Regions from separate parts of the Homo sapiens genome. Here region 2 is linked to region 1. Evidence: fine-mapped expression QTL. A gene starts in region 1. The other region holds a variant in brackets. All regions are shown on one strand. Distances are from middle to middle.

Region 1 (16,321 bases):
AGGAGGGGTCAAAGTGACATAGTGTGACAATGCCCAGGAAGGCTGTTTTAGACATGGATTTAAATATATTTTCATGAGCCACTGTAAGGTGTTCACAGAGGTGAGACCAGTGAGCCACCCGCCTTTCCTCTGGCATCCAGGAAAACACTTGTGAAGCAAGAAGTATCATGTTACACCAGCCCTTCTCTTCCCAGTTTCTCCTAAAACAGATTCTCCAACTTCAATACGCATTAGAATCACCTGGGCAGCTCTTAAAAATCCCAGTGTCCAGGCCACAGCCCAGAAAAATTCAATCGGAATCTCTGGGGATGGGTCCCAGGCATCAGGGCCTTCTAAGTCTCCCTTTGGTGAATTCAATATGCAGCACCAGTTGAGATTCAGTGTTTCTTAAAGAACCCTTTACAAAAGCAGGACTGGTTGAAGTGGTGTCTATTCAACGGCACAGAACTGAACATCGGCTCTAAATGACTGTTCAGTCGGCTTATTGCAGGACTGGGGAGAAGCACTCACCCGCGGTGGTGATGCGGCTCTTTTCCTGCATAAAATCTACAGACCCTGTCTAATATTTTCCATGCCAGGCAATGAGATCACAAACTCCAAAACATTAAATCAAAACCGGAGGCATTACAGGTCTTCAGTAAAACTTCATAGTCCGTACACAAGGGGGGGGAGAGAAGAAAATTAAAACCATCACCAAGCTGCGGACATATTATATGTGTGAGTGTGTGCATTTTTTTTGTGTGTGTATGTATGCATGTACGTATGTATGTATGTATGTATATGTAGCAAGCATTGGGATGTCATAGCAATTAGAGACAAAAATATGTAGAACAATAATTAGTTAAAAGTGATTGGCTAGGCAGACAGTAAAAAGTTACTCACAAGTAAAAAGAATCCATTTGTGCCTTAAAGAAAGCTCATCATAAAAGATCCTTGATTCCTAACAAGGAAAATGATTTATGCCAAGGTGGGTGGAAATAACAGTGATATACATATGATAAATTAAATGAACATGAAGGAGATCCTACTTTCATGAGAATATTCAATTATAAAGGACTTCAAGACTTCTGAGTTTACAAAACCGTGTAACAAAGTCTTTATTCCAAAATAGCGGTGTTTCTAAATAGTATGCTGGATATAAAAAATAAAAGCCTTAACATCTAATTCTAATCATAATTTTAATGATGGAAGAAATGGATAACTGAAGATGGGAGCAGTACTTTGGTTTTAACACCTGCAGTAGCTGCAGGTGTTAGCGTTCCTTTAGCAAACCTTCTACCTATCTCATTTTCAGGGCTTGAATTATGTTTTTGTGTGGGTGTGTGCTGAAGATTGGAGAGGACTGATCTTTAATAAGAAACTAGACAAGTCCAGGCAAACAAGGACTGGCTTGACATTGTCTTTAATCAAGACAAAGGGCTCCACATGGGTCCTTCACCTTCCTTGTCCATTATTCAGGTTCTATTACCATGTAGGAACAGAATTTCCAAAGCACTACCCTTGCATTCAAGGGCAACACACTTCAAGCTGGTTCCAATTAGGCTGGGCCAGTGTGGATGTCTCACACGCGTCAATATTTGCAGCTGAGCTAGTCAGATCTGCAGGGGTATCCTCTAGACAGCAGGAGACCCTTCTTACTGCTGCCTTTGTGAACAATCCTGCAGGCATTTACACCACCTCCCTCTCGCCTCCCTTCACAAATACCATTTCTATCCTTTGTACCCCTGTGGCTACTCTTAGATCTCCCCTTTTCCAAATACCTGGGAGATATGCCACATGGACATTTCAAGTTTCCCAAATAATTTCCATTTTATTAGTGACATTTAGACTTAATACTGTCACTTAAACATTTTTTGAGTGCTCACTGCGAAGGTGGAATTTTGACCCATGTCTGGAAATTTCTGCAGGCATTAATGTTGATGAAATGAAATTAAATCAGATCTAATTGCACAGTAGAGGTCATTTTATATAAGAGGAAATTGAGGCTTATTTGACATGCTCATTGCCAGGGAAAGAGAGAGACATAATAGCAATCTGCAGAACTCGATTTGGGGCTAGTGAGAATATACACACAAGAATGGCAAGAATGCCAGATCCTCCTGAAGGCTCTAGAAACCGTTTCTTCCTACAAAGGGCACCAACCCTCTGTAGTTTATTTTTATCAGCCAAATTCCACGTTTAAAATATATCTACTCCAAAGTAAATGTTATTAATGTAGTAGTCAGATCCCTGCATTGCAGGGTAGAAAGTATCTCAGATCTTCGTTGCCAATACTCAATTTCCCCCTATTTATTTCTAGTGCAGGTTTCACAGCAAATCTGTTTTCTAATTTGCTTTTTTCTTACATCTCTGAACAGAATTGAGGAGCACTGGTCTTCCACCGTTTTGTTAATCACATTGAAAATGTTCACCTATTCTTTTTTATTCATTTCACTTTAGGAAAATGAAAAAAGTTGTCCTGGCTTCTCTCGCCATGCATTGCCAAGGACGTTGCTCGCTGGTAGTGGCCAGTGTCAGCGGAAACGGTGCTCCATCCACCACAGCTGACCCGACTCATTTTCGATAATAAACATTTCCAGGGTAGCGAACATCATGGAGGCCTAGGCAAAGAACCAACTTTACGACCGCCTTGGTCAGCAGCAGGCCAAAGGAAAATAAGCCGCGGGAATGGGTCCGCGAAGCCAAGGACGTTATTTCTCGCTCTTGGGGGCTCTGTTTTAATGCCAGTTGGCAGGGTCCTCAACACCTTCCATTTGGGGTCTGGAGAGTCTGTGTGTCCTAGTCAGGAGAGGCAGGTTCTGTGCAAAACGCACTCCCCACCTCGTCCTTGAGGATCCACTCTGTTGGGAGGACGCTCTGACCTTGCGCTCCGAGGCGGCGCTCACAGGCGCCAATTCAGAATCTAGTCTTCCTCTCCCCTTCCTCGCTCCCTCCTTCCACCGCCGCAGTCATTCCCCGCGGAGTTTCGTTGTGTTGTTACACAAGCCAGCTTTTGGTTTGTTAGTTGTTCGCATTCCCCCAGGGTTTGCAGCTCCCCGATCTGGCTCAGCTCTTCTTCCCATAGTTTCTTTGCAGCTAGCAGCTCCTCATTTCTCTTTTCGTCAATTTTCTTCTTATTTTTAAGTATGATGTGGCGGATCTTTTTTGCAAAACTACGGGCATGTGTACGTGTGGAGCTTGGTACTATAACCTGATGCATAAAGTGCGTTTTTAGCCCGAGCTGCTTTTTTATTTTCCCCTTCAAACGTAAATTTAAGAAGAAAATTAAGAGACTCAATTTGACTTTGATTTTGAACCACAGGACTCATGGCTCAGTGCTCTTAAAACTCTTAAAAACACAGTAAAAGCGCAGGTCCTGAGCAGAGCCAGGACTCATGCAGGAGCGAAAGCGGGCCTATTAAGGCCTGAGGCTAGGACGTCGTGAGGAAGACCCGGGATCCCGGCCCTGCGGCCCCTGCGGGCTGCTGCTGGTGGGTACCAGCTTTCGTTGTTAGGCCCAAGTCTGGCCAGGGCTCTCGGGGAGTGCCACCTGTGTTTTCTGCCCTCTGTTACTTCCCGCAAGAACCGAAATGCGCACCTGTATGCCCAAGTTGGACTTAAATCAGCTTTTTCTTAAGGTTTCTCCTGGAGTCCTTGAAATGCATGGGCCCGGGGAACATCCCGGCCTATTGCTTGTTTTAACTCCCGGAAACAAACCCACCAAAAATCAAAGCCAAGTATGAGACATGAAGTGGGGGCGACTGTAGCTCCAAGAGCGGCCCTGTCACCGAACCCCTGGGTGTTTAGCAGTGTGAAGTTTCGGGTGTTGAGTTCACGGCTCAGGTGGCGTGCAGCAAGGGAGTTCTCATCAGTAACCCCCCTTGCCGCCAACCCCCAGTCCCCAGAAGGGCAGGCACCCCTTCGCGCCTCCTTTTTGACTCCCGCTTTCGGCAAAGAGTTTACCTCTCTTTCTTTTCCTGCCTTGGGAAAACTGGGCGAGGGCCCGAAGCCTCTGGGGTACCCTCAGATCCATCCTCTGCCCTGCTAGGAGTCCAGCCCCAGGCGGAGGAGTTTTGCCCCAGGTTTCTGAGTGCGCCCTCAGCTAACAGGCTCCCGCGACCCTGGAAGCGGAACTTTGTTGCACTCCGCTTCCAGAGGACGCTGAAATACGGTGCCAAACCCAGCCAAGCAAAAACGCAGAATCCGCGAGCTCTTTACCTCTGTGCGCTCAGCGCTGACTAGTAGCTGTCCCCGGGCCATGGAGAGGGCTAAGCTGCCTCCTTGGGAGGTGGGAGAGACGTTTCTTTTCCTTCTGCAATCTCATCTTAGGGCCATCTCTCACCAAGCCTAGCCTGCAGCTCGGGAACCCGCGATACCCGGCCGGGGGACGACAGGGGGCGACAAACTGTAAGGTTTTCCCTATGCCCGACCGTGCAGAAGGCTGCAGCGAGGGCTGTGTGCTCCCGATCGCGCACAGCTGGCTGCGGGAAAGGGGCCAGGATTGAGACGAAGGCTCGCGGACTCTGCTACCGGGGAGAACCACCCCCTCTCATCGTGCGCAATCCCCAGACTCACCCCTCTACAGTAGCCCCCAGCCACGGGCGGCCTTCACGGGGACGGGGGCGGAGTTTTGTCCTGGACTGCGACTCCTTGCCACTTTTCCAAGCTCGGCAGCAGAGGTGGGGTGGACGTTCCCCTGAAAGGGTAGTTGGGCGAACCAGCTCTCACGGTGTCACGACCGGCTTTATTTCCTCGTCTTTAGAGTGTGCCTGTTGACTCCTCACCTACTGGGGGGAAGAAGCGGCTTTAGCTGCTTTTCCGGATCACGAGTATCCACTGGACTGAGGCAGGGATGTGGCGTTCCTTTATCTCAGAGACTCCAAGGTCTGGAAATCAACCTTTCTTGGTATCTCGCGCCCGACGAAGCTAGCAGATTCCGCAATGGAGAGCACTGGGCAGGGTGCGTCCCCACTCCCCGCACCCCCGGAGCCCCGAGCATACTGTGCGTGCTTAGTCCTCTCTTCGCTGCCTTCGCGGAACTCCTGGCTTAGGCGTGCCCACTTTAATCCAAACCATTCCCTTTCCCTGTTCCTTACTCCAAACCTACGCTGTCATGGACAGGCCTAATCTTCTACATAGCTTCCCCTGCTCCCACTCTCGCACCCTCCTGCCAGTGCACTGACCCTCAAACCTCCTCCAGGTCTCCAGGACCTCCCAGAGCCAGAGACTGTACTGTGTTCATGCCGCCGGAGAGGAAGAGTTCACTTCTTTTAAACCTGATTTTTCTTTTTCCAGGAGTAATTCTTGTCTGTGGCCCCACCGCGTGCTCTCTCTAGAGAGTCCAGGAATTATGAGCCAGTCACTCCTGACAGATACATTTAGACAGGTGGATTAGGAGCCAGGGATGCTCTCTGGCCCTACAGCGGAGGCAAAGGGGTCGGGGCCTCCGCAGCCATGGCTCCCCAGGGTGGGCTGATAGGGTCCATGTGCTCCTCAGCCACTGTCACCGCGCTGGCGCCATACTCAACTCTGGGTGGCTAAGGAGAGCTAGACCCTTGGGGTGGGCAGGAGGGAGGGGAAGAGGGTTCTCTCCTCCAGGGGAGCGCTGGGAGTCTCAGAAACCTCGGCTGTTCCTACTCTCTCCCCTATGCCCTCTTCCTGGTCTAGCACATTCAGCCCAATGCCTTTGGTGCTTACTGGGCTCAACCTCAGAGCTCTCAGATCCTGACCCCCTCAAATCAGTTCATGTTCAAAACCACGAGTTTCCTCCTCTTGGCCCTCACCGCATGGCTCCCGGACACAGTTAGCTGCACAGGTTGGGGAGTTCAGAACTGCTTTGGTGCAGGGTAGAAACAGAGAAATTGTTGATGTTCAATCTCAGGGGTGAATAATTCAGGGCTGCGCAAAACCTCATTTAAATGAAGGAGAAATGACCATTCTGTGGTTTAACAGAGACTTCCTGAAGCTGCAGGTGCTGGGAGAAAGACGAGGCCAGGCCACCTGGGATAGAGTGGTGCGAGATTCCACCGCCAGGGAGAAAGGAACTTGTCCTTCAGACCTAGAGCTGGAGCTATGCATTTGGCCTCCCGCCGGTCGCGCTTGGGGACAGGAGGGCGCCGGATCTATGCGCCCCTTAGCAGCAGATCGGGATCCTTTTGCCTCCTGCCCCTTCTGTCACTGCTTGGAGAGGGATGAGTTCTGGTGGCTGGGCCTGGCTGTAGGAGACAGGATTTGGACCGTGCCCCTCTCGCATCACCGAAATCACCCCCACTATTCCAAGAGTGGTTGGCTATTAAACGTGAAGATTTCCTGAGAGAAGGATTGAGGACCTGGCCAGGAATGGGACACAAGTTCCGCCTTGTGTCTTCCTGACAGGAGCCCTGCACCGCGCTGGACGCTCACCTTGACACTCCCAGCCAGCTGGGGTACTGATCCCACCCTTCCCCGGCCGCTGCCCCGGGAGTGGGGAGGTAGAGAGAGCCACACCCGAAACACCTTTCCACGATAAACTTTTATTCTCTATCTTATTATTAATGGTGGCGGAAATAAAACTAAAACCAAAACGAAAACGAGTACTAGTACTAACACACTAATCAATTTGAGATGACTTCCCCCTCATTCCCAAAGCTAGAGGAGGAAGGGGGCTGAAAGGGGCTCAGAGCAGTGGAAGGTCCCAGGCCCAGCTGGGGTTGGGACGTGTGTGTGTGTGTGTGTGTGTGTGTGTGTGTGTGTGTGTGTGTAGAGGGGTGGGTTCCGGGGGGGTGGTGGAAGAGGGCCGAGGGGGGAGGATAGAAGGAGGGGGTAGAGTTTCAGGGCGGGGAGGGGGGCGCTGGGGCGCAGTGACGGGAACCAATGAGCTGCCAACTCGCGCGTCTCCGGCGTGACTGCCGAGATTGACGTGGAGGACACGTCAAATTGATTCCCGCACGCTGCAGCCTCCCGGTCAGACGAATTTCTCCCAATCGGATGAAGTTCACCCTGGGCCTGGGGTCGCGGGCGTGGAGAGTGTCCTGGGAGGGGGCAGCAGCGGCGGCGGCAGGCCCTGGAGCGGGCGGCAGCGCGCTCCGCTGCCGCGCACAGCGCGTCTCCAGCCCGCGGCTGGGCCGCCGCGGCTCTCGGCTCTCGGGCGCCCTCCCTCTATGCCTCTCACGCGGCGGCGGCGGCGCCCAAGCTCTCCCGGACTGCGCCGGGCCCAGCCCCGGCCACCCCGGCCACCCCGGCGCCAGGCAGCTGGCCGGCCCGCTCGCTATGGGTAAGGGGCGGGCGACAGGCAGGGCTCGGGAGGGCTGATGAGGTGGGTCGGGTCCGCCTGCCTCCCTTCCCTCTCGTCCGCTTTCCCTGGGCGACCCAGTCCTGGGTCCTGGAGAAGCTGCATTCTCCTCTGATCCCCAGCCTTCAGGGGGCAGTTGAGCAAGTCTGGGAAGGGAGTGTTCCAAGTAGACGCGCTAAAAGTCGCGAAAGGGCACGGAGGGCTACAATGCGCCGCGCTCCACTCCGCGGCTCCTCTGCGCCCTTGCCCACTCCAAGCCAGACCCAGGCGGTTTGCCCTTGGACTCCGAGCTGTCTGGGGACCCACAGGTCACCTTTGGAAGTGCGCCTGGGTGCAGTCCCTCGCTCCGCGTGGGGACCCTTGGCTAACCCGCCGGGTGTTTTCTCCCCCTCCGGCTCACTCTTGTCTGGCGCATCCGCAGAGCAGACGTATGGCGAGGTGAACCAGCTGGGCGGTGTGTTCGTCAACGGCCGCCCCCTGCCCAACGCCATCCGCTTGCGCATTGTGGAGCTGGCGCAGCTGGGCATCCGACCCTGTGACATCAGTCGGCAGCTCCGCGTATCCCACGGCTGCGTGAGCAAGATCCTGGCGCGCTACAACGAGACCGGCTCCATTCTGCCCGGGGCCATCGGGGGGAGCAAGCCCCGCGTCACCACTCCCAACGTGGTCAAGCACATCCGGGACTACAAGCAAGGAGACCCTGGCATCTTTGCCTGGGAGATCCGCGACCGGCTGCTGGCCGACGGCGTCTGTGACAAGTACAATGTGCCTTCGGTGAGCTCCATCAGCCGCATCCTGCGCAACAAGATCGGCAGCCTGGCGCAGCCCGGACCGTACGAGGCAAGTAAGCAGCCGCCGTCGCAGCCTACGCTGCCCTACAACCACATCTACCAGTACCCCTACCCCAGTCCCGTGTCGCCCACGGGCGCCAAGATGGGCAGCCACCCCGGGGTCCCGGGCACGGCGGGCCACGTCAGCATCCCGCGCTCATGGCCCTCGGCACACTCGGTCAGCAACATCCTGGGCATCCGGACGTTTATGGAGCAAACAGGTCAGTTGTGGCGGCCTCCGTAGCCTTCTATTAAGGGGCAGAACCTGGGGCGGGCAGGCTTGCAGGAGAGGACTCACACTCGCTCTCCTCCCGGGACCGGTTCTGGCTCAGGGGAGGGCTCCACACTGGCCAGGGAGGCTGGGGGTCCTGGGCCTTTTGTAAGAGACCTCGGACATCTTGAACTTTTTATGACAAATATGGAAAATATTTCCCAAATAGAAGAGCAATCGCCGACCACAAATTTGGAGGCCTGAAATTGTGCTTTTTCATTCTTGCAAAAAGTATGCAAGCCCCTGTTGCCAAATCTAAGGGGGAAAAAAACCCGCTCAATTTTGAGACCCTTTCTTTAGCTCTCAGAATCCTTCACGATTTCCCAAGGGTTCTGTCCCCCACTCCCAGGCCCAGTGGCTCTTCTGAGTTAAAGGAAAAGGGATCTTGTGGTCGATTGAGTGGCCTACATCTCTAAGGTCCTGTGGCCTTGCAGGTCCTGGAGTTTGCGGTGATGGCTGGTGGGGCTGCAGCCACCTTCACAAGGATTTGTCATTTATCTGCAACTAAAGCTTAACACACTATAGGTCAAGTGGGTGACGAGGAAGATGGGGAAGGCGGGAGGTTTGGAACAACTTTGATGCCTGGCTGGGAAAGAAACCAGCCAGAATCGGGTCTGGATTTCTTTGCGCTCTCCCCAGCTGCCAGCAGCTGGCCAGGGGATGGCACACTCTTAGGTGATCAGACTCAGGAGGAGGGCAAGAAGCAAAATTCACCATAGCCTAGGAGGAAAGAGTGGTGGCTGGAAAGAAACTGTGAGTGCTCAGCTCCAGCAGCAGCAGCGCCTCTGTGGCCCTGCTCTGGCTTTGTGTCTCCTGGTGGCTCTAACCCAGCCTAAGGCTAAAGCTTCCCATGGAATGGCAGGGGTCTGGAGGTGACCCCACCAAGCCTGCACGCAGATCTGGAGGTTTCCCTTGGTTCCTGGCACACACAAGGGCCCGGGGAGCAGCTGTGTGCTTCTATCTGACCCGTGGGGACAACAATGTTGACGCTTCTTTTGGGAAACCCTGGGCGTTTCCAGAGGCAGTTCTCGTAGAATCGTCTCCCTGCCCTCCAGAGGCTTGTGCAGATGTTGAGAAATCAATACAATTTTCATGAGGTTGCTGTAGCTTTGAACTCGGAAGTTTCTGGGAGCCGTGTCTGGACAATGGAGCGGCCGCTTTGGCCGAGTCTGCCCAGGCTTTGACTCAGCAGCAGCCTCCCGTTCGTGGGAAACCGGTTGAAGGCTAGGAGGACCGGGCAGCAGGCCTGGCTGCCTTTCCTCCGCCCCACCCGGAGTGGTGAACATTCCAGTCCCTGCCGCCTCCTGGTGGAGTGTCAGGCCACCTACAAATTTTGTGGGACCCCTGGCCGTGTCTTCAGATACAAATTGGGTGGTTGGCCACACGTGTGCCCAGGGCAGATTCGGAGGCACCTTTTAATCCGTCCTCTCTCTCCTGCAGGGGCCCTGGCTGGGAGCGAAGGCACCGCTTACTCTCCCAAGATGGAAGACTGGGCCGGCGTGAACCGCACGGCCTTCCCCGCCACCCCCGCAGTGAATGGGCTAGAGAAACCTGCCTTAGAGGCAGACATTAAATACACTCAGGTAACCAGGAGGCACGTGAGGCCGTGACCTTAAGTAGGGAAGCAGAAGGTTTGGGCAAGTGGGGAAAAAGAGAGAGAAAGAAAAGAAAAAATTTCCAGGCAGAGAGATGGTTGTATCTGGCAGCCGGCTAGCAAGCGTCCTTTCTGTCCTTTCCTCAAGCGTACTAGTTTGGGAGAGTCTGACTTTAGAGGGGTTGACTTGCCTTTGCCAAGATAGCTTAGCTAAAAAAAGCTGGAACTCCAGATGACGAATCCACAGTCAAGGGCCTTCTTTCTCTAAATCCCGATATGAATACCATGACCCCTTCACATCGTTATTTGTAACAGTTTGAGTGAATTCTTAGAAATCACTTTGCCAAAGAGTCCTGACTAGGAAATTTAGAGGCCAGGCCTCGCATGGGGATAATGGATGGGCACAGGACGTGGGGGAGCGATAATGGACGAAAACCCCCGTCTCAGTGATGGCGTGGGCTAGAGAAGGCAGGATTTTCTGCTGCTGACGGTCCCTCTCTATCCCCACAGTCGGCCTCCACCCTCTCTGCCGTGGGCGGCTTTCTCCCCGCCTGCGCCTACCCGGCCTCCAACCAGCACGGCGTGTACAGCGCCCCGGGCGGCGGCTACCTCGCCCCGGGCCCGCCGTGGCCGCCTGCGCAAGGTCCTCCTCTGGCGCCCCCCGGGGCCGGCGTAGCTGTGCATGGCGGGGAACTCGCGGCAGCAATGACCTTCAAGCATCCCAGCCGAGAAGGTGAGGAGCGCAGGGAGTGGGGCGGGTGGATGCTGGAAGGGTTAGGAAGGGTACTGGGGAGCGGGTGTGAGCCTGGGAAAAGGGAGAGCGGGTGGGGAAGAGGTGGGTCCTGGGCATGAACCCTTCTTCTGGGTTAACCTTTGAGCATGTAGCTTCTTGGAGCAGATTAGTTCTGACAGGTGTCCCTATAAAGGTACCCGAGGTTGAGAGAGACTGGCCCCAAGACTGTCCCCTCCACTTATGATGGGAGAGGTGAAAGGAGGTCCTTCTGGCACACAGGACGCGTGGGTTTGGATCCGGTTCTGGCACCTTCGACCAAGTTCCTGCTTCTTTCTGGGTTTCTGTTTCTCCATCCAGAGACACGTCTAGCAGGCACCCTCCAGGCTCACCTTTCTGTAGACCTGTTCTGGCACCTAAGCCCTTTAGGTGGGGTTGGACTTGCTAGTGGCACCTAACCTCCATCCCCAGACCCTTCCCGTCTCTGCCCCACTGCCCATCTGTTTTTTCCAGGTTCCTTAGAGAGAAAAAAAGGCGTTTGGATTCTTTTTCTTAAATACACACTGTGGGAAAGTAGAGGCCATGTGAATCAGTGTCCTTTACTCCAGGCTCAGGAGCTTTCTGTGGTTGTGGGTGGTGGTGGTGGTGGGCGGGTGGGGGGGTTCTCTCTTTCTGTGGAAAATGTGCCTGGGAGTCTTGCCTCCTTTTCCGCTTCCTCCTTCTCTTCCTTTTCCATAAGTCCACTTCCTGAAAAGTCGAGGAACAGATTTTAGGTATTTCACTGACAGTCAGCAGTGTGAGGGGGATCTTCTCACACAACCAGGAGGGTTCCAGTTTTTCCTTTAACTTGGGAAAAGCTCACCAGCCCTTGAGTCCTCATTTTCTTTGTTGTTAAAAGGAATGGCTTGATTTGCTAAGTTCAAACTTGCCAGTGCTTAGGTTCTGAGCACCAGAAATTTGCAACTTCAACCAACCTGGGAAAGGAAAGGGTCACCCCAGGTCGTCCCAGCCCCAGCAGAGAAAGAGACAAGGCACAAACCTGGGGGACAGCGTGGAGTTCCCAGATTATAAAAGGATTTTTACTAGCTGCTTTGCCTCCACCTGTCCAGGGCTGGAAGCGAGGTGGATGTAGTGGCAGGTGGCAGTGGGCAGGCAGGGGACAGGAGGGCCATCCTCCTTGGTGCTGCCCAGGCAAAAAGTGCTATTTCCAAGTAGTCTTGATAAGATAGGAGGGCATGCCCTGGGGAGTGGGGGTGGGGTGGGGGGCAGGAAGGAAATAAAGATGCCATCCACAACAGTGAAATGAAGGGAGAAAAATACTTTTTCTATTTCTACCTTTCCTAGAGCACAGACATCCTGGGATATTAGGATAATGTTCACTTGCCTAGTTACAGACAAATCCAAATAAGGAAAATTTATAAAAATTGGGATTTAGAGCTCTTTTAAACTTTAAGTTTAATTTAAATAGGATACTATCATTTACTCATTTATAGAAAAATCCAAGTGAAGGAAATGTTAAAAGTTGAGAGTAAGAACTCCTTTAAGCTTTATGTTTAAGGATAGTTAAGGGGTCGCAGATGAGCGCTTCACTCATCCTCAGCCTCCAATCAACCTGTTTTCTCAACAACTGAGGTTATCTGTCGAAATCGAAATCAAAATAAAATTTACCACATTACACAAATCACTTAAATAAGCAGGTTCTTTTGAATTAAAAATGTATAACCACAGATTTGAAATATTTCACTGGGTTCATCTTAAGGAGAAGGAAGACTTAGAAAAAAGACCCACAGTCTTCAGAGGAATGCATTTGTTTTCAATAGAGCCACTTTGCCCTGGAGGCATTTTAAGCTCTACATTAGACACAAATTATAAAGTGCAGATAATAAGCCAAAGGTAACACACACAGTTCCTAATTCTAAACTACCTGTCTTAATTTGTGGTGGAAGTTGCGGGGAAGCTGATTTTAACATTAAGCCTCACTGGTGATTGATTTTCTTTAGAAGACACTTTCCTTTTCAGAAATACAGGGTCATTGAATGGTGCTGGCATAAGTCCCTTTTACCATTATATCAGTTTCCTATTATGTAATATCCCACCTGTTTTTAAAAGCTACAGCAATAATTTGTTACTCTAGTTATTAAATTAATAATTTAATTTTGTGGTCCTCCAACTTCTTTAAAGGTTCTAATAAAAGATAATCAGATAACTTGGGGACACCATTAGCAATGATTTCTCAAGCTGGCATGCAACTGTTTGTGTTCGAACAGGAATGTAGAAATAATCATTCATTATCTATCTATATTCATAGCCTGAGAATTACATACATGCTTGGGTTATGGATTTTTACTCCTTACTGGTAGAACAGCTGACTTCAAAGATCTATTCCCTCAACACAACTGGTCTTTGGAAAGACAGAAAAATAATAAGAATCACTGCCTTTTATTTTCTGATCAGTTCTTAAGAAATTAATATCTTCAAAGAAACCTGTCCCAGAGGACAATTTACTATCAGCAATTGTTCAATTCATAAGAATAGTGAGAATAGTATTTAGTGAACTCCTTTTCAGTAAGAAAAAATTCTTCTGTGTAATGAAAAGCAATTTAATACAATAAATGCTCAGTAAAAGCAAATACCTTTGATCACCTAACACATACACACCACACACGCACAGTGCAATATATATCAATATGTCCTCCAAATTAGTGCAAATGAACAGCTTAACAGTTACCCTAAGTGAAACTTAATCAAATGTCAAATCGAAAATTTAGCATTTAATTAGATATTAATTGATTAATTGTGTTATTTAATACTATAATTCATTTTTTTCTTATTTTTTAAAAAGGTAGTGAGTCTGGGTTTCCTATTATGTAGGTAAAAAGCATGATTTACATTTCCCATCCCCTGAAAGGAAACTTTAATTTTTGGGAATTGAGAAGAATAGAAAAAGTTTCGCTTAATCTTCACTTGGAGAGGCTGACATTCTAGGAATCTCCACCCACATCCAAATGTCTTTTCATAGCCAGGGCACGACCATCTCCCCTTCCCCACCCTTAGGTGACAGACACCACCAGATGCTCCCTCAAGACAGCTGGTATTTACAGGATGTTTTCAGAGACCCTCGAAACCTCAGGGTTTTAAGTCCCTCCTCGTGGGGCTCTGGAATGACTAAAGATTTGGAAATCAAATCTATAAGATACTGCATACGCACAAAGAAAATGTATTGCTTTTATTTGTTAAAGATAACTTGCAGCTTCGCTCCAGTTACCTCTGCCTCGGGATTGGTTCTTGGAAGATCCTAAAAGTAAACTTTGTCAAAGAGCACTAGGTCGCTGGCATTGTCGCACCCGGACGCTGGCAACCCCGGCCTCCGTTTGACCCAGCCCCGGGGATCCCTTCCCAGACCCGTGCCTCCCCTCAGCGGTGGTCTCAGAGTGCCCTGCAATTGCAGTTGAATATTTAAAAAATGCCTCTCCCCATTCTTAGCCCCTGAATTAAATGAGCCTGACCTAGGCCCCGGCCTCCGAGGGCCCAGAAGTACCCACCCTTGTTGTCCTATGGAGGGAATGGAGGGCAGGAGGGGCCCTATGAGGAAGGATGGCTTGGACAGGGCTAAAAACACAGCAGGATTCGCCCCTGTAGGGTGGGATGCAGTCTTCCTGGGTGTTTATTTTTCATGAGTTCAGTTTCTTGCTTGTCTCTAAGGTAACCGTCCCTTGGCTGAGAAACCTCCACCTCCTCAGATGTTTTCTAAACAGGTCCTCACTTTGAAGTGTGTGTCCACGGTAGAAAGAAAAGGTCTGAATACTTGTTGGCTGGGCGGCCACAACTTTGTTTAGGAAAAAGAGCTGAGAGCCAGGGAAAAGCAGAGGGGCCGCTCTGTCCTGGGAAGGTCTTTAGACCTCTTTAAAACCTCAACGAAACCGTGTGTTTTCTTTTTTTTTTGTGTGTGTGTGTGTGTGTGTGTGTGTGTCTTGCACAGAGGTGGTTGGCCCAGCTCTGCGCAGCCACAGCAAGTTGCGCCTGAGGCTGAGGCGAGGGAAGCTGCAGGAGAAAAAAAAATCCAGAGTTCCCCTTACTTCAAATCGAGGCGCTCCAAGCTCCCCCTTTAAAGGAGGACTTGGGGAAAAAAGAAAATTGAAAATAGGCCCCTGTAGGTATAAACAAACTGTGGATCCTAGTGTAGGAGAAGCAGAGTGGCTCAAGGTTGGGAAAGGAAAAACAGGCTTGCGCAATCGTGGCGTCACTTTCTGGCTTCCGGTGGCAAAACTTGGGCCCCTTCCCAAGCCCCTAAATAATAGAGTAAGGCGCAGAATACTGCCCGATCTGGCAATCCCACTGTCACTTAATCCGGAGGCCCACAGGTCCCAGGACGTGCTGTGCCCACAGTGGTGAGCGCATCTGGATCCCCGGACCTCGTGGGCACAACGTAGTCTGCCGCTCACTTAAAGCGCAACTGCCTCCTACGTCGGAGGAATCCAGGCCGCTCCAGGGAAATCTCTGGTGGCTCATTTCCCGCAAGATTTCCCCCTGCCCACAGCGAGCTCCGAGCCGCGGGTGTCAGCGGACTCGACGCATTGGCTGCTCTTCGCACTTGTGCGGGCGCCTGGGGTTTGGAAAGGGTGAGGGTCCGCGCAACGTTAGAGTCCTGTTCCCTTCTGCGGAAGTCGCCATCAGACCTGAAACCTTCCCAGCCCTCTGCGCCCTTCACTTCCTTTACTGAGCAGGTGGTGAGGGGGTTGGACGGCAACGGGAATTGCACCTGGCCAGCGGTCAGTGTTTGCAAATGGCCTTGCGAGGAGTCCCGCTTGCCAAGGCTCTCCTTGCAAGTGGCTCTCCTAGCGGGAGAGGAAGGGCTGGTCGCCCACGGAAGCTTGGGGTCTCTGGAGAGCGCGAGTCTCTGCTTCACTCTTCCAGAGCCTTCAAGGGTTGAGCGCTCACGACCTCGCTCTGCAGGCGTCCTGAGTCCCAGTGCCTCTCGCACTGCGCGGCGCTAGGTAGTGATCCGACGCCTCTGTGCTTCCTCCCGCAGTGGCTGACAGGAAGCCTCCCAGCTCCGGCAGCAAGGCCCCGGACGCCCTCAGTAGCTTACACGGACTGCCCATCCCGGCCTCGACCTCCTAGGGGCAGCTCTCCCCGGACCCGAGCCCGGAGGGAACGGCAGGCGGACCCGGGCGCACAGGTCTGCGCGGCGGCCCCGGCAATCGGCACGGGCAGGATCGGAGGACTCGCGGAGGAGGAAGCCAGTGCCGGCCCGCGGGGTGCACGCCCAGCCAGCCCCCAGGCCCAGCCCTGCCTCTGGCCGGACCCACCACACTTCCTTTATTGGTCTGGGTTTTTAGGCTTCTCTGAACTTGGGTTTTAGACTGCCGTACCCTCCTCACAATCCTTGCTCTGACGTGGCCTCCTTCGCTCTGCCAGCTTCAAATTTCTTTTTTGTCACTCCCTTGTCCGTCTCCGTCTCGCCTCTCTCCCTGTTTCCTTCCCCCCTCTTTCTTTCTCACTCTCCCTCCCTTCCCTTTCTCTTTCCCTTCCTCCCTACCTTCCACCCCGGCTTTCCCCGACCTTCCAGGGCTCCCTCTGCCCTTCCACTCTCTTTTCCTTGCTCCGACCTCTGCTCCAGTCCCGCTTCTTCCCCCGTCTCCTCTTT
Region 2 (16,321 bases), 380 kb before region 1:
GGAATCTATAGAATATGGTCGTTTCTGGCTGGCTGCTTTCACTTAATATTATGTTTTCAAAGTTCACCCATGTTGTAGCATGTCGCAGTACTTTATTATTTGCTTATGGCCAAATACTGTGCCATTGTATGGATATACCACATTTTGTTCATCCATTTGTCTGTTGATAAACATTTGAACAGTTTCTATGTTTTGGCTATTATGAATAATGCTGTTTTAAACATTCATGTTATGTTTCTATGTGGATATGTTTTCGTTTTTCTTGGGTGTATACCTAGGCGTAGAGTTGCTGGATTATATGGTTTAATCATTTGAAGAACTGCCAGCCACTTTCCCAGGTTCTCGCTCTGTTGCCCAGGCTGGAGTGCAATGGCATGATCATAGCTCACTGCAGCCTTGAACTCCTGGGTTCAAGCGATTCTCCTGCCTCAGTCTCCTGAATAGCTAGGACTATAGGCATGTGCCACTATGCTTGGCTAACTTTTTTTTTTTTTAAGAGATGGGGTTTCTCTGTGTTGCCTACTGGTCTTGAACTCCTAGCCCCAAGTGATTGCACTATTTTATATTCCCACCAGTAGTGTATGAGGGTTCCAATTTTTCCACATTTTTGCTGTGAAGCAGGTTTACTGTGTGTTGCTTACCAACTTGTCTGAGTCTGAGGAGACAAGGACATCCATGTACAATGTTACATGAAGAGGGTTTATTATTTACAAATAGACAGTAAAGGACAACAGAAGCCTAGGATTCATTCTGAATGGGTCCCCCATGGCTCAGGAAACATGCCCGGGGCAGATAGAGTCTTGACTGCAGGGGCCACACTTACATGGCGGGAGAGGAACCCTGAAAGGCAGCCCACTCTGGGTTATACACCTCAGGGTTTATGTGACACACTGAGCTAATGCTTTAAAAAATGTCCTGCTTCCAGGGGTGAAAGGAACAAAGCCCACCTTGTCCCGGGCAGTTGCGCCCTCACTCAAGATGTTAAATTCCTGGGAGGGACAGGAGCAAGGCTGGACATTTTCAGGCAGTTCTTCCCTATTTCAGGATATTGCATTACCATCACATTCTACAGTCACTTTTGAGAACTATGAGCAAGAAAAGGAACTGAGTTAGTCCAAGGCCAGCCAAAGAACTATGCCACACTTGCCAACACTTGTTATCTGACTTGGCTTTAGCCATTCTAGTGGGTGTGTGACGTGGTATCTCCTGTGGTTTTGATTTGCATTTTCTGATGACTAGTCGTGTTGAGCATCTTTTCATGTGCTTACTGGCCATCTGTGTATCTTTTGGAGAAATGTCTATTTAGGTTCTTTGTCTCCTCTTCCCCCTTTTTTTTGAGACAGGGTTTCACTCTTGTTACCCGGGCTGGAGGGCAGTGGCACAATCTCAGCTCACTGCAACCTCCATCTCCCAGGGTCACGTTATCCTCCCACCTCAGCCTCCTGAGTAGCTGGGACTACAGGCAGGCACCACCATGCCTGGCTAACTTTTTGTATTTTGGGTTGAGACAGGGTTTTGCCATATTGCCCAGGCTGGTCTCGAATCAACTCCTGAGCTCAGATGATCCACCTCCCTCAGCCTCCCAAAGTGTTGGGATTACAGGCGTGAGCCATCATACCCGGCCTCTTTGCCCTTTTAAAATTGGGTTGTCCTATTGAAGTGTAAGAGTTTTAAAGAATGTATTCTGAATATAAGTCCCTTATAAGATAAATGATTTGCAAATATTTTCCCACATTCTGTGGATTGTCTTTCCACTTTCTTGATGGTGTCCTTTGAAGAATAAAAGTTTAAAATTTTGTCCGGTTGTGGTGACTCACGCTTGTAATCGCAGCACTTTGGGAGGCTGAGGTGGGCAGATCACTTGAGGACAGGAGTTTGAGACCAGCCTGGCCAACATGGTGAAACCCCGTCTCTACTGAAAATACAGAAAATTAGCCGGGTGTGGTGGTGGGCGCCTGTAATCCCAGCTACTCAGGAGGCTGGGGCAGGAGAATGGCTTGAACCCAGGAGGCGGAGGTTGCAGTGAGCCAAGATTGTGCCATTGCACTCCAGCCTGGGCAACAAGAGCAAAACTCAGTCTCAAAAAACAAACAAACAAAAAAGTTTAAAATTTTGATGATGAAGTGCAGTTCATCTGCTTTTTTCTTTTATCGTTTGTGCTTTTGATGGCATATCTAAGAATTCCATTGCCAAATTCAAGGTCACAAATATTTACACCTGTTTTTCGGAAGAGTTTTATAGCTTTAGCTCTTAAATGTAGGTTCATGATCCATTTTGAGTTGTTTGGGTTGAGTTAAGGTGTGAAGTAATAGTCCAGCTTCACTTTCTTGCATTGGCTATCTAGTTGTCCTACACCATTTGTTGAAGACTGTTCTTTTCCCCATTAAATGATCTTGACACCTTATCAAAAATCAGCTAATAATAGCTGTGTGCATTTATTTCTGGACTCAATTCCATTCCATTGATCTAAATGTTTATCCTTGTCCCAGTACCGCACTGTCTTGATTACTGTTGATTACAGAGCACGTTGAATTTGTCAATCAGTTTGGGGAGTATTGTCATCTTAATGTTGAGTCTTGTGTTCCATAAATATGGGATGTTATTTGTTTAGAACTATTTTGATTTCTGTCAACAGTGTTTTGTAGTTTTCAAAATATAAATTTCGTATTTCTTTGTTAGATTTAGCCCTAGTTTTTTGATACTATTGTGAGAATGTTTTAACTTTATTTTTGGAATACTCATTGCAAGTGTATAGAAATGTAATTGATTTTTATATATTGATTTTGTATCCTATAACCTTGCTGAAGTCATATATCGTAATAATTTTCTAGTGGATCCCTTAGGATTTTCTATATACACAATCATGTCATGTGCAAATATAGTTTAATTTCTTTTTTTTCTAATATCAATACCTTTTCCTTTTCCTGCCTAATTGCCCTGGCTGGAACCTCCAGAATAGAAGTGGCAAGAGCAGGCATCTTTGTCTTATTCCTCATTTTAGAGGGAAAGCATTTAGGCTTTGACCACCAAGTATGATGTTAACTGTTAGGTTATTTTTTTGTTTGTTTGTTTTTGTTTTTGCAGATGCCCTTTATGTTGAGAATTTCCCTTCTATTTCTAGATGAGTATTTTTTTTTTTAATCATGAAAGTGTTGGATTTTTCGAACGCTTTTTCTATATGAAGATGATCGTGTCATTTTGCTTTGCAATCTGTTAATATGATGTGTTTAATTGATTGGTTTTTGGATGTTCAACTAACTTTGCATTTCTAGGATAAATCCTACTTGGTCATGGTGTATAATATTTTAATATATTGCTGGCTTCTGTTTGCTAGTCCAGTCGTCTTGCAGTATCTGTGAGGGATTGGTTCCAGGACCTCCTGTGGATGCCGAAATCAACGGAGGCTCAAATCTCTGATATATAATGGTGTAATATTTGCATATAATCTATGCACATCTTCTCGTATATTTTAAATAGTCTCTGGGTTACTTAAATACCTGGTACAATGTAAATGCTGTGTGAATAGTTGTTATACTGTACCATTTAGGGAATAATGACAAGAAAAGGTCTGCACATGTTGAGTACCAACGCAACTGTCCATTTTTTTCCTGAATATTTTTGATCCATGATTGATCTATTCCACAGATGTAGAATTGACAGATACGGAGGGCTGACTGTATTTTGTTGAGGATTTTTGCATCCATGCTCATAAGAGATGCTGGTCTGCAGTTTTTTCTTTTATGTTTTTGTGTGGTCTTGGTATTGGTCATATTGGCCCAATAAAATGTGTTCGGAATTGTTGGGAAGAGTTCATGAAGAATTCGTACAAATTCTTCTTTTGAATGTCTGATGCAATTCAGCAGTGAAGCCATTTACACTTGACTTTTCTTTTGGGTAGTTTGCGGATTACTGATTTAATTGCTTTAACTTGTTATGGGTTTATGCAGTTTATGTCTTTCTTGAATCATTTTTGGTAGTTTGTGTCTTTCTAGTAATTTGTCCATTTCATCTAAGTTATCTAATTTGTTGGTGTATGACTATTCATGGTATTTCTTTATAATCCTTTTTGTTTTTATAAGGTTAGCAGTAATGTCCTGTCTCTCGTCTCTGATTCTAGTAACTTGAGTCTTCCCTCTTTTTTCTTTCATCAGACTAGCTGAAGGTTTGTCATTTTTTGTTGACCTTTTTAAACAACTAGCTTTGTTGGTTTCATTGATTTTTCTCTATTTTTAAATTTTCGTTTCATTAATTTCTGCTCTCATCTTTTATTCTTTCTGCTTGCTTTAGGTTTAGTTTACTCTCTTTTGGTATCTTAAGGTGGAAAGTTAGGTAATTGATTTGAGATTTTTTTTTTAATTAACTTTTTCAGAGCCAAATACTTCTGAAGAGATATTTCTTAATCTAAGCATTTGCAACTATAAATTTCCATGTGAACACTGCTTTATATGTATTCCATAACATTTTGTATATTGTGTCTTCATTTGTATTGATCCCAAAGTAGTTTCTGGTTTCCCGTTTGATTTCTTCCTAGATCCCTTGGTTATTTTGGACTGTGTTGTTTAATTTCCACATATTTGTGAATTTGCCAATTTTTTTTTCTCTTAATGGTTTCTAATTTTATTTCATTGTGGTCAGAGTGTATACTTTGTATTATTTCTATGCTTTTACTTTTTTTGAGAGCATATTTCGTGTACACCTGAGAATGTATATTCTGTTAAGTGTAATGTGCTAGAAATATCTGTTAGGTCTCTGTTGATAGTGTTGTTCAAATTATCTGTTTTCATGTTGATCTTCTGTTTTGTTCTATTATTGAAGGGGGAGTATTGAAGTCTCCAGCTATCATTGTTGAATTGCCATATGTCTTGTTTTGTGTATTTTGGTGCTGTTATTAGGTGCACCTGTATTTTTAATTGTTATATCTTTTTCTTGATGGATTTACTTTTTATCGTTATAAAATGACCCTCTTTACCTCCAGTAACATTTTTTTATTTGTTTTAGTCTGTTTTATCTGATATCAGTATAGCCACTCCAGTTTTCTTGTGGTTGCTGTCTGCATGATTATCTTTTCTCATCCATTTACTTTTACTCTTTTGGGTCTTTGAATCTCAAGTGTATCTCCTGTAGATAACGCAGAGTTAGATCATGTTTTTAAAATCCACTTTGACAAGCTACCTTTTTGTTGGATTGTTTGATCCATTCACATTTTAATGTAATTATTGATAGAGTTACATTTTACTTTTTGTTTTTTGTATGTCTCATGTCATTTTTCTCTATTTCTCCTTTGTGCTTTCTTTTGCAATGAGAGGATATTTTCTAATATAGCATTCAAATTTTTTTCTTTTCTTATTCAGTGGCCAGTTACTAGAAGGATTCTAAATTCATTAGTAATTTTTTCCACTATATATTTTTTCAAAGTCATTGTTCTAGAGCTTACCCTATGTATCTTGCTAGAATCAAATTCAGATTTATACTTGCTTAGTTTCAGTAATACATGCTAAAATTTATTGAACTTTACTGCTATATAGTTCAGTTCCCATCCCCCCTTTGTATATTATTGTTATATATATTACATATATTGACATAATCCAACAATACATTTTTTTAAGAGTTACTTTACCGTCTGTAGCCATTTCCTTAGCCCACTGCAACTTTGTTTCCATCCACCCCTTTTTGCTATTAGGGCAAATATATTACACATATATTACATTCTGCCTTATAAGCTCAACATTATACTATGTAATATTTATACAATTGCTTTTTAATTCAATTAAGAGAAGAAAGGAGGGAAAATATACTTGTGCTTATTGTTTGCATGGACTTGAATTACCATCTAGAGTCACTTGCTTTAGTAACTTTAGTAAACTTTTTGTAACTTTATAGCTTGAAGAACTTCGTTTAGTAGTTTTTGACAGTGTGGTCTGTTAGCAATAATTCTCTCAGCTTTTTATTGATCTGAGTCTTTATGTCACCCCAGTTTTGCACTATAGCTTTTCTGGACTGAGAATTCTTGGTTGACAGGGTTCTTTTGTTGTTGTTTGTTTGTTTCCACTTCTTTACTGCTTTTTATGTTATCCCACTACCTATTGGCATCATTTATTTATTTATGTATTTATTTATTTATGTATTTATTTATTTATTTATTTTGAGACGGAGTCTTGCTGTGTCACCCAGGCTGGAGTGCAGTGGCACGATCTCGGCTTACTGCAAGCTCCACCTCCCGGGTTCACGCCATTCTCCTGCCTCAGCCTCCTGAGTAGCTGGCACTACGGGCGCCTGCCACCACATCCGGCTAATTTTTTGTATTTTTAGTAGAGACAGGGTTTCAGCGTGCTAGCCAGGATGGTCTCGATCTCCTGACATCGTGATCGGCCTGACTTGGCCTCCCAAAGTGCTGGGATTACAGGCGTGAGCCACCACGCCCGGCCTTATTTATTTATTTTTGAGATGGAGTCTTGCTGTCACCCAGGTTGGAGTGCAGTGGCGTGATCTTGGCTCACTGTAACCTCCATCTCCCGGGTTCAAGCGATTCTCCTGCCTCAGCCTCCCGAGTAGCTGGGGCTACAGGCATGCACCACCACACCTGGCTAATTTTTTGTATTTTTAGTAGAGACGGGGTTTCACCATGTTGGCCAGGCTGATCTCGAACTCCTAAATTGTAGATCTTTCCAGGAATTAGTTTCTGACGTCAGTGTTTGGTATTTGTGCTAACACCAGGAGGGCTCCTCCCAGCCATCTTAATCCCGAGTTTTCTTCTGCAAACTAGCCTGTAGTCCAGGCCTGTATCTTCATTAGATCTATTAGTCTCCTCCCAGTTGCTCTTCACCATAGCTTGCACTGTTTTGGTTTGTTTCTTTGTATTTGAGACAGGGTCTCACTCTGTTGCCCAGGCTGGAGTGCAGTAGTGCGATCTTGGCCCACTGCATCCTCAACTTCCGGGGCTCAGGTGATTCTCCCACCTCAGCCTCCTGAGTAAGCTGGGATTACAGGTATGCTATCACACCTGGCTAATTTTTTGTAGAGATGAGGTTTCACCATATTGCCTAGGCTGATCCCAAACTCCTGGGCTCAAGTGCTCTGTCTCGGTGTCCCGAATTGCTCTGATTATAGTTATGAGCCACTGTGCCTGG[CTGTGTG/C]TGTGTGTGTGTGTGTGTGTGTGTGTGTGTGTGTGTGTGTGTGTAGGGTCTCATTTTGTCACCTAGGCTATAGTGCAGTAGTGGCACAATCAGCTCACTGTAGTTTCCAACTCCTGGGCTCATGCAGACCTCTGCCTTAATCTCCTAGGTAGCTGGGACTACAGGTACATGCCACTGTACCTTCCTGATTCTTGATGGGGCTCCAGGACTCTTATGTTCCCCAGGCTGGCCTTGAACTCCTGGGTGCAAGTGATTCTCCCGCTTCAGCCTCCCAAAATGCTGATTACAGGCATGAGCCACTGGGCCTCATTCTACTTTCACTGTTCTTGAGAACAGCTTTTTTTTGTTTGTTTTTTAAACTTTACTGTGCACTTTTGCAAATGAATTTTGTTCTAAAATTTTTACAGGTTTTCTTGATTTGCTTGCTGTTTGCCCTCAGGATCATTTCCAAAGGCTTTAAATGTTTTTGTTTTAAAAGTAATATTTACCAGTTTCACTGGGGAGCAGGTCGTTGAAGCTCTTCATGCTGTCATGTTAGAATAAAATCTTCTGATAAGACTTTATTTAGCAAATGATGATCAATGTCACACACCTTGCCTATTTTGTATCCTCTGTAGTACCTGATATAGACCTTGGTACACATCACTTTGAATCTAGTGAAATTACAATTAATTAGTCTAACATACTGGTTAAGGTACCATCTCTGAGTCATGGTTTTAAATCCTAGTTCCTGAATCTATAGTAGTGTGACTTTGGAAAAGCCACTTAACCTCTCTAAGCATTTGTGTTCTTAATTGTAAGTGGGATACTCCAGACCTCACAAGGTTGTTGTGAGGATAGAATGGAATAATCCATGAGTAAAAGCCCTTGTAACAGTGCTTATCACGTTAAGTGCTCCGTAAATGCTAGTGGTAATTATTAGTCCTCATTCACTAACGTCGTATAAAAATGAAGATCTAACACACGTACAACTTGAAAAAATACTAATCACCCATAAGTGTTAAAATTGTCTTATTATAGGTTGAATTTTTAAGCCAAAATACTGTAATTTCAATTTTTCATTAGCCCTTTGGCCATTTCTCTCTAAAATATCACCCATGGTTTGAATTTCTTTTCATAGTTCCAAGCTTCTTTAAGGGAAATCTGAAACTGAGTTGTATGGTTTGGCATATGACTTCCATCAGTGGGATACTCCTGTTGCCCTGGAACCTCAGACATGATTCATGGTTTTTCTAATGTTCCTGTTAAATCCTTTGTAGGTTTAAACAAAAACAATGCATCTACTGAGCTATTGGTGGTGGTTTCTCCTCATAAGGTTGACTGGAACAGTGGGTTGGCATGAAATTCATTTTAGGGATATACTTCAAAACCTGTGTAATGTATATTTATACAAACATTATTTGTATATTTGTATTATCTTTACTTCTTTAAATACCTTCTTTATCTTGATTTCTTGGCATTTTCATGCACAAATATAATGATATCCCAACTGCCTATTTGGAATAAATATATCCCCTGCTTTATCCATGAAGTCACGAAGGAGCAGGCTTCCTACTAGGCAGAGCTACCTTGACTGCCAGCCTTCTGGTAGGGGTGCTCTCTGTTCCTTCCTAGGCATTGTTACTCAGCCAGGGCACTGCACTGCCTTTCTAACCTAAGCCTTCACATTCTCTGGGAGCTTCTGTCTCAAGTTGCCTGGTTCACATGGGACCTGGGTGGGTGAAGGGAGAGGAGAGGGCAGGAGTTGACCCATCTGGCTGTTGCTGTGACTGGCGCTGATGAATCATCCAGAAGCTGTCCCTTGAGCCTCCTCTCTGGGCCTAGAGCCCTCTTGTGTTAGCCCACCTTTGGCAGCATATCTCTTCTCACATGTTGGAGGTACTGCACTCCATCTTCAGTTAGGGCTATTGGTTGCCCATATTTTAGGTATCACTCATCATTTCTCAGCCACAAATTCTGGTTTTCCGCCGTAGTTATACAGTAGATTTGTTTGTTTGTTTGTTTGGTCTTTCATGTGGTCTTGGGGTAGAAAGGGAAGACTGCAGTGTGTGTTCAGTCTGTCATCTGGGGAATCCAAAAAATAATTAAAAGTCATTACTTGAAATACATTGGTTTTAGGGTTCAGAGTGGCTCTCCTTTTAGCTGCCCTTTGATTAAGGATCTCTCTTTAACTGAACAGGAAACGTGTTGGTATAGCATTGGACAAGGTTCTTGAGGAGTCAGTTCTTTGTTGAGCATCAGAGTCTTCTCTTGATGAAAGGAATTCTAAAGTTACATAATAAGTGTGTTGGACATGTCTACAGTACTCTTGAGGGGAAAATATATTCAGTTTTCTTACTGGGAATACCTGGAGCTCTTTTCTCAAAATTAGGACCCACCTACTCCGTACTTTATTTTTTTTCCTAGGTAGTAGAAGTAGAAATTCTCATGTAGCTCCACTCCATATGAAGAGCTGTGCCTTTTCTTGTGCTAGGCACTAGGGCAGGGATTAGCCTGCTGGTGACGTCCTGTTTTTGTGAGTCAGGTTTTATTGGAATACAGCCATGTCCATTCATGTTGTGTTGTTTATGGTTGCTTTCACTCTTCAAAGGCAGATATTAGTTGTTGCAGCTGAGATCATATGGCCAGCAGGTCTGAAATATTTACTGATTTTTTTCCTGGAGGGCACAAAGAATGAGTTTTGATTTTCCTGAGTGTGGTGGGCCGTTGGACAGGATGAAGGTGGATGTGGACTTTGGGGTGTAGAGGTTAGATGAAGAGGCAGAGAGCCTCTTGCCATCATAGAGTTTGTTTTAATTTTGGGGTCATCAAATTATCTTTTTCTATAGACTCCACCCACCCCCCCAAGAATTGACCTGCTTTTTTCTTTACCACTTATTCCACTCACTGTTCCTGATCAAGCCTTTTTTTCTTGATTCACAGCATGTATGTACAGAAGATTGTCTAGTAGCTTCTTCTCTGTTCTGCCTTAAATCCCTTTTGTTATTCTTTCCCTCCAATTCTAAGTGCAACTTGAAGCCCAGTTGCATTCCCGTGATTCCTTCTCAAAGACAGTCAATATCCTGAAGTTGGTGTTTATCATTCCTTTGCTTTTCACCATGCTTTCATTGCATATGTATTCGTCCCTGAGCAATATTGAATGCTGTTTTATTTATTCATAACTTTCTGTAAGTGGTATACTGTATATGTTCTTTTTTTTTTTTTGGCCTAGTATGTTTGTGACCATCTAGCTCTAGCTCTTCCAATCTCACTTGCATCTCACAAGTATATGGATGTTATATGAGCTTATTCTTTTCCTGATGGGCTTGTTTCCTTTCCTCTAAGTTGATCTGTTTACTTGTTTAAGAGATGAGATCTTACTCTGTCGCCCAGGCTGGCATACAGTGGTGTGATCATAGCTCACGGCAGCCTTGAACTCCTGGCCTCAAGCAATCCTCTCACCTCAGCTTCCGAAGTAGCTGAGACTACCCGCACATACCACCATACCTGATTTTAAATTTCTATTTCTAACAGCTTTATTGAGATATAATTTGTGTATCATGAAATTGACCTGCTGAAAGTGTATGATTCAGTGGTTTTTAGTATATTTACAGAGCTGTGCAATCATCACTATTATCTGATTTTAGAGGGTCTTCATTCTCAAAAGTAATTAGCAGTTGCTACCCATCTCCCTCCCCTGTCTCCACCCTCACCTGAAGCAACCATTAATCTACTTTTTATATTTGCAAACATGTCTATTTTAGACTTTTCATATAAATGGGATTGTATAGTACTTGGTACTTCATGACTGGCTTCTTTCACTTAACCTAATGTTTTTGAGCTTCATCCATGATGTAGTATGTACATGATGGGCTTTTAAATTGCTTACAGTTTTTGCTGTTACAAGTGATGCTTTATATGTGCTTGAGGAACTGTTATTTTTTTAAGTGACTTTTATTGTTAATAGTAAAAATTAGATCTCATAGTCTTAATCTCTTGCTGAGGCTCTGGAAGAGAAAAACAAAGGAAGTAACATTTACAAAAACATAATTGAGTATCTCTGGCAGTGAGTAAGCCCTTATCTTTTGAGGAACTCAATGTAGCTGGGGTAGATTGACTAACTGTAAAACAGTGGAAGTGCTACAAGTGAATAAGCAAAATTATGAGGAAATTCAGAAGGAACAATTTCTTGGGAGATATGTACAAGGTGTTATAAAGTGAGTGACATTTGATTTGAGTGTAGACCCTGGAAATTAGTAATTTTTCAGGAAGTGGGTGTTGACAAGGGAGGAAGAAGGTGTTCTGAAAGAAGCATCATGTGACGGCATTGAGAGATCAAAAGGCATTTTCCAGGAACTTACAAGAGAGTGAGTGGGCTTCAACAATAGTATGGCAGGATAGGAGACTAGGAAGGCTCCAGGCTCATTGATAAACACCTGCTGTGAGAATCATTAGAAAAATTAGGTAAGATTAAGGACGTACACTTTTATGTTTTAGAAAGAGAACTCTGACAATGCAGAAAGTGAGCTGGAGACCAGAGAGTCTAGAGGTGGGGTAGACTAGATGAAGGTTGTTGTGCTCTTTTAGGTTAGAGATGGTAACTTCTTGTTGTTCATGGTGGTGGGAATGAAAGGAGATGAAGTAGGTAAGCATTTTTTACGTTACTTTGACAGGACTTACTGATGTGAGTGGTGAGGGAAATGAATTTTAAGATGACTCCCATGATTTCTCACTTGAACAACCTGAATGATTTGTGAATTTTCTAAACATCTACATTGTCAAAAATAACTTGTGTTAGAAGCCATCCACTTTCTACAGATAAAATATCTGCTTCAGTTTGCTTTAAGGAATAAAATAACTTATTATAATTTAAAGGTTACTTGAAGTGTTTTATTTCCAGTTCAGAAATGAAACACAAGTTCATATTGAGCCTAGGATCTGTCATTTTTAGACTTGAACAATCAAACTACTATTAATTATCACTTCCTCATAGCCAAAAGAATGCAATGGTGTAAAGATTCCAGTTGATGCCAGTAAACCTAATCCAAATGATGTGGAGTTTGATAATCTGTATTTGGATATGAATGGAATCATCCATCCCTGTACTCATCCTGAAGACAAGTACGTAACCCATTTTTGTCACTGATATAGCAAATCACAGAGGAAACATTATATTATATTACATTGTTTGGTTGTCATTATAGACCAGCACCAAAAAATGAAGATGAAATGATGGTTGCAATTTTTGAGTACATTGACAGACTTTTCAGTATTGTAAGACCAAGAAGACTTCTCTACATGGCAATAGATGGAGTGGTAAGTGCTAAAATAATTAGAAGCCTCCATTTTGTTTTTTTTTGCTGTGTTACCAGTGTCTAGAATGAAAGTCAGCTAAATAATGAAAAATGTTGACAGTGATGAACTTGAGAAAGAAAGCCTCATCCTTCAGTCATTCATTCAGATGTTTTTTTGTGTGTGTGTTTTGTGCTTATTTTGTGCTCAGTACTGTGAAATACTGGGGATGTTGGCGACTGCCCTTGCTTTTGAACTTTTGGCTTACTGTCAAAGGGAAGGAGGCATAGATAAATGGGTGAGCTTAATTATTTATAGGCATTATAAGCACTAGATAATACATGCAGGGTGTTGAGGGAAGAGGAAGTCAGTGCTACTAAGGAAGTTAGGATATAGAGAAGAGGTGACTTTTGTTCCATTTCTTTAACAATGAAGAATAATTGGGAGATTGGTGGGTGGTGGTGGGAGATGGATGGGACAGGGTTTGGGGAGGGAGGACCTTCCAGATTTCTCAAATGTGGCAGGTAAACACACTTTCCGTGCCTTTGACCACACTGACATGTTTTGGCAACTACAGGTGGTTTGAATTGAGAAGGGAAGTATAGCAAAAGCTTGAGAAAGCCTTACCGTCTGGAGTTTGGACTGTATCCTATAGGCAATGAGTAGTCATGAAAATGATTTGAGAGGAGTAAGTTACTGACCTATGATAATAATACCAAGTAGCTCCTTTTATAAATGACCAGCAAACTCTATTAGGGGGGTAAGGTAAGATATAACTCTAAATTTATTTAGCTATCTGCAAGTAGATTCTTTTAATTTTAGTGCATCCTAGCGGCTAATGGGATGATTTTGGAAATTCAGAGAACTTTGAATCCAAGAAGATTAACTTTTCTGTGAGATTCGTCTTACTCAGTGAAAAACCTTAGCTACCTGATAACTTGCTAAGTTGCAGTTAGAATGGAGTAAAGAGTAAAAAGAAAAGGAATATGTCTTGTTTAGAGCACATTTCAGTTTATATTCAGCTAATTTTTTTTGAAGAAATCTTTAGCTTTACTCCAGTGTGTTCTTTCTGCTACATCAAGTATAAAATATGTACACATTTATATGCATGTGTGTGTACATGTTTATACACACATTTTTTTGTTTATATATAAATGTAGATACAGAACTTTGTACTTGAGAGGGCTTCATTAGATGGTCTCATTCTACAGAAAAGGGAATTGTTTAAAGAGAATATTAAATAACTTACATTTAGATGTAAACAGGATATTTCACAGTTTCTTCCCACCCCAAAACTCAGTTCAGTAACTTCGAAAATCTTACAATCTAGTTCACTTTATTTGGGCTTTTCCACTGAAATTGCATTTGGTTAGAGTGATTTAAAAGTACTTCTGGTTAAGGCATTATTTCTTTCTAACTGCTATGCCTTATTGAAAAGACAGAAAAATTATAAACCTTATTGTGGGAAATAGAAGTGCACCGAGATTCTTCACATAAAGAAATAGTTTTCTGTTGCTTTTATGAGACATTGTGGATCCCATTTGGACACCATTCTTCCTTTTAGGTGTGGACATAGAGAATGTCTTCCTGATCTTAGTTCAGTAGTAACTGCTCATCAGATGTTGGCTGGGTCTTTTGAGTAAAGTGAGCTTTCTTTCTTGGGTGCCCTGAATCAAGCACCCTAACCGAGGGGAACTGGTGTTAGACTGGGAGGGCTTGAAGTATAAGTGCTAGGGCTTCATAGGATGTTTGTCCATTTGACGTGGCACTCATTCACCTGATTGAGCTCAGCTTTTGGGTTCTCGGTCCAAATTTAAGTTCTCAGCATCTGGTATCTGTCATGAAAGGATTATTAGACACATTACTTACCTTTCTTCCATTTTAGTGTACTGCTTTTATAAGAACAACTGATTCAAAATAAGGTACAGATTTATTTGTGAATATTTTGATGAGTGTTATGGAATATGAAATACATTTTCAGGCACCACGTGCTAAAATGAACCAGCAGCGTTCAAGGAGGTTCAGGGCATCAAAAGAAGGAATGGAAGCAGCAGTCGAGAAGCAGCGAGTCAGGGAAGAAATATTGGCAAAAGGTAAAGAATATGCATCTTGAAGTTGGATTTTTTCATAAGATGTATGCAGAATGAGGGGGTGGTGGCAACTTTTTCTTACAAAGAGGCAAGCTTTTAATTTAATAAGGATCCCAGAATATCCAGTGTTCACTGTTGAGGAAAAGTAGTTCATGAAATCTACCAATAGGCTTAATAGGCTTGTTTATTTTCAAACTCTCCAGTAAGAGGGAGCCTTGGGAATAGGGAATTCTGGTGGAGATTGCAGATTGTCAACTCCTCTCAGGGCCAGTGCAGCTCTTTAACAAACTTTTATGTCTCTGTAGAATAGAAATATAGTAAGTATTTTTTACTACTTTTCTCTGTGGCGGCTGTCAGAAAGCTATAGTGCTGTAAACATTTTCCTCAAATCAGCTTTGGTTTGCTTGCTTTTTGAAACTCAGAGGTCTATCTGAGGAAGCCGGAGGTGATTCGATCCACATTTACAGGCTGTTGCCAAGTCATTTGCATACTTTCAATATAGGTTGATGGAGCAGGCACAGTACTTATGGTTCCTTCAAGTTTGGAGGGGTTAGGGTGGGATGTCTTCATTTTTGCAGTTCCCCAAAGCCTTAAAATTCCTGGTGGCTACATGGGTAGGAACTGACTAAGCCTCAGAGAAAAGGAAGATCAGGGAGTGTTGATGCCAGTTGGGACTGGTTCTCTCCTACCACACCTGTGTGTGAGGTAGGGTATGGTTGTAGCAGGTTTGTTTGGTGTTCTGCTACTTAAGGGGGTATAATAGACCAGAAAAGCCACAGTGTCTTGGCTCCGGATAATTGCACTCTGCAGTTGAAAAAGGATGCCATAGTATAGCCAGCTCAGGCCTGCAATTACAATAAATTTTATATTACTTGAATTTTGCTGGAAGTGTACAAGTATATAGTTCCTTTAGCTGCAACTTGTAATTAAGACTCTAAAACCTGTTTGTATTTATAACAATGTTTCTGATTTTAAGAATGTCTTTTTTTTGAAGATGTGATGAAATATACTTGTTTCTTGAGAAGCAGCTAATAGTGATAGAGAGGAAAAAATAGGATTTTTATATTCCTCTACCTGATAATTGTATTTCTTATCCTGTAAAGCTGTGATGAACTCGGCATTTTAAATTTCATTTTTCTTAGGCACCTTTATTTTAGGAACTGTTATCAAAAAATATGGCCTCTAACTGGTGTGTGTGTGTGTGTGTGTGTGTGTGTGTGTGTGTGTGTGTATTCTCTTACAGAGTGAAGAACTTCATAATTTTTATGTAACAATATAATATCTTTTGTGTACCATATATTGTTTTACAGTCTTATTAAAACATAATTTAAAAGGCTGAGCACGATGGCTCACCCCTGTAATCCCAGCATTTTGGGAGGCCGAGGACGGCAGATGACTGGAGGTCAGGAGTTCAAGACCAGCCTGGCCAACACAATGAAACTGCGTCTCTACTAAAAATACAAAAATTAGCCAGGCGTGGTGGCAGGCGCCTGTAATCCCAGCTTCTCAGGAGGCTGAGACAGGAGAATCGCTTGAACCCCGGAAGGCGGAGGTTGCAGTGAGCCGAGATTGCACCACTGCACTCCAGCCTGGGTGACAGAATGAGACTCTGTCTCAAATAATAATAATAATAATAATTTAAATTTGAGAGATGGAATCTTATTTTCTTCCCAGTGAGGGAACATTTTTCCTCGGATGACGAGACTTCACTTTCTTTTGTAGTGGAACTTTTTGTTTTTGTTGTTCTGGCTTAATGTTGAGTAATTTATCTCACTTTTTATGGGGAGAACAAAACGTTGCCTCTTTTCTCTAGGTGGCTTTCTTCCT

Direction of the effects. Alleles are on the strand shown, and positions count from the first base shown. SD is a standard deviation of normalised expression in the study named.
With allele C in place of CTGTGTG in region 2, the expression in synovium of the gene that starts at base 6,897 in region 1 is lower (large effect, 1.0 SD a copy in Steinberg 2020).

What was found.
Region 2: its variant is fine-mapped to the expression of PAX1 in synovium (Steinberg 2020, PIP 0.95).

What each region holds. Positions count from the first base shown.
Region 1 is chr20:21,698,768-21,715,088 of GRCh38, forward strand. It overlaps PAX1 (paired box 1), which reads left to right and starts at 6,897. Exons shown (of 5, transcript NM_001257096.2): 1 at 6,897-7,231; 2 at 7,671-8,300; 3 at 9,791-9,933; 4 at 10,455-10,677; 5 at 15,704-16,321. The coding sequence starts at 6,946. The coding sequence ends at 15,795. LINC01726 (long intergenic non-protein coding RNA 1726) reads right to left here and starts at 4,818. Exons shown (of 5, transcript NR_109878.1): 1 at 4,555-4,818. RefSeq lists enhancers at 2,319-2,924, 4,136-4,740, 14,074-14,573.
Region 2 is chr20:21,314,174-21,330,494 of GRCh38, forward strand. It overlaps XRN2 (5'-3' exoribonuclease 2), which reads left to right. Exons shown (of 30, transcript NM_012255.5): 2 at 12,106-12,233; 3 at 12,317-12,428; 4 at 14,386-14,497; 5 at 16,308-16,321. Among named protein-coding and RNA genes, the nearest start is that of XRN2, 19 kb to the left of the region's middle. The variant CTGTGTG/C (reference allele first, on the strand shown) is at 7,128.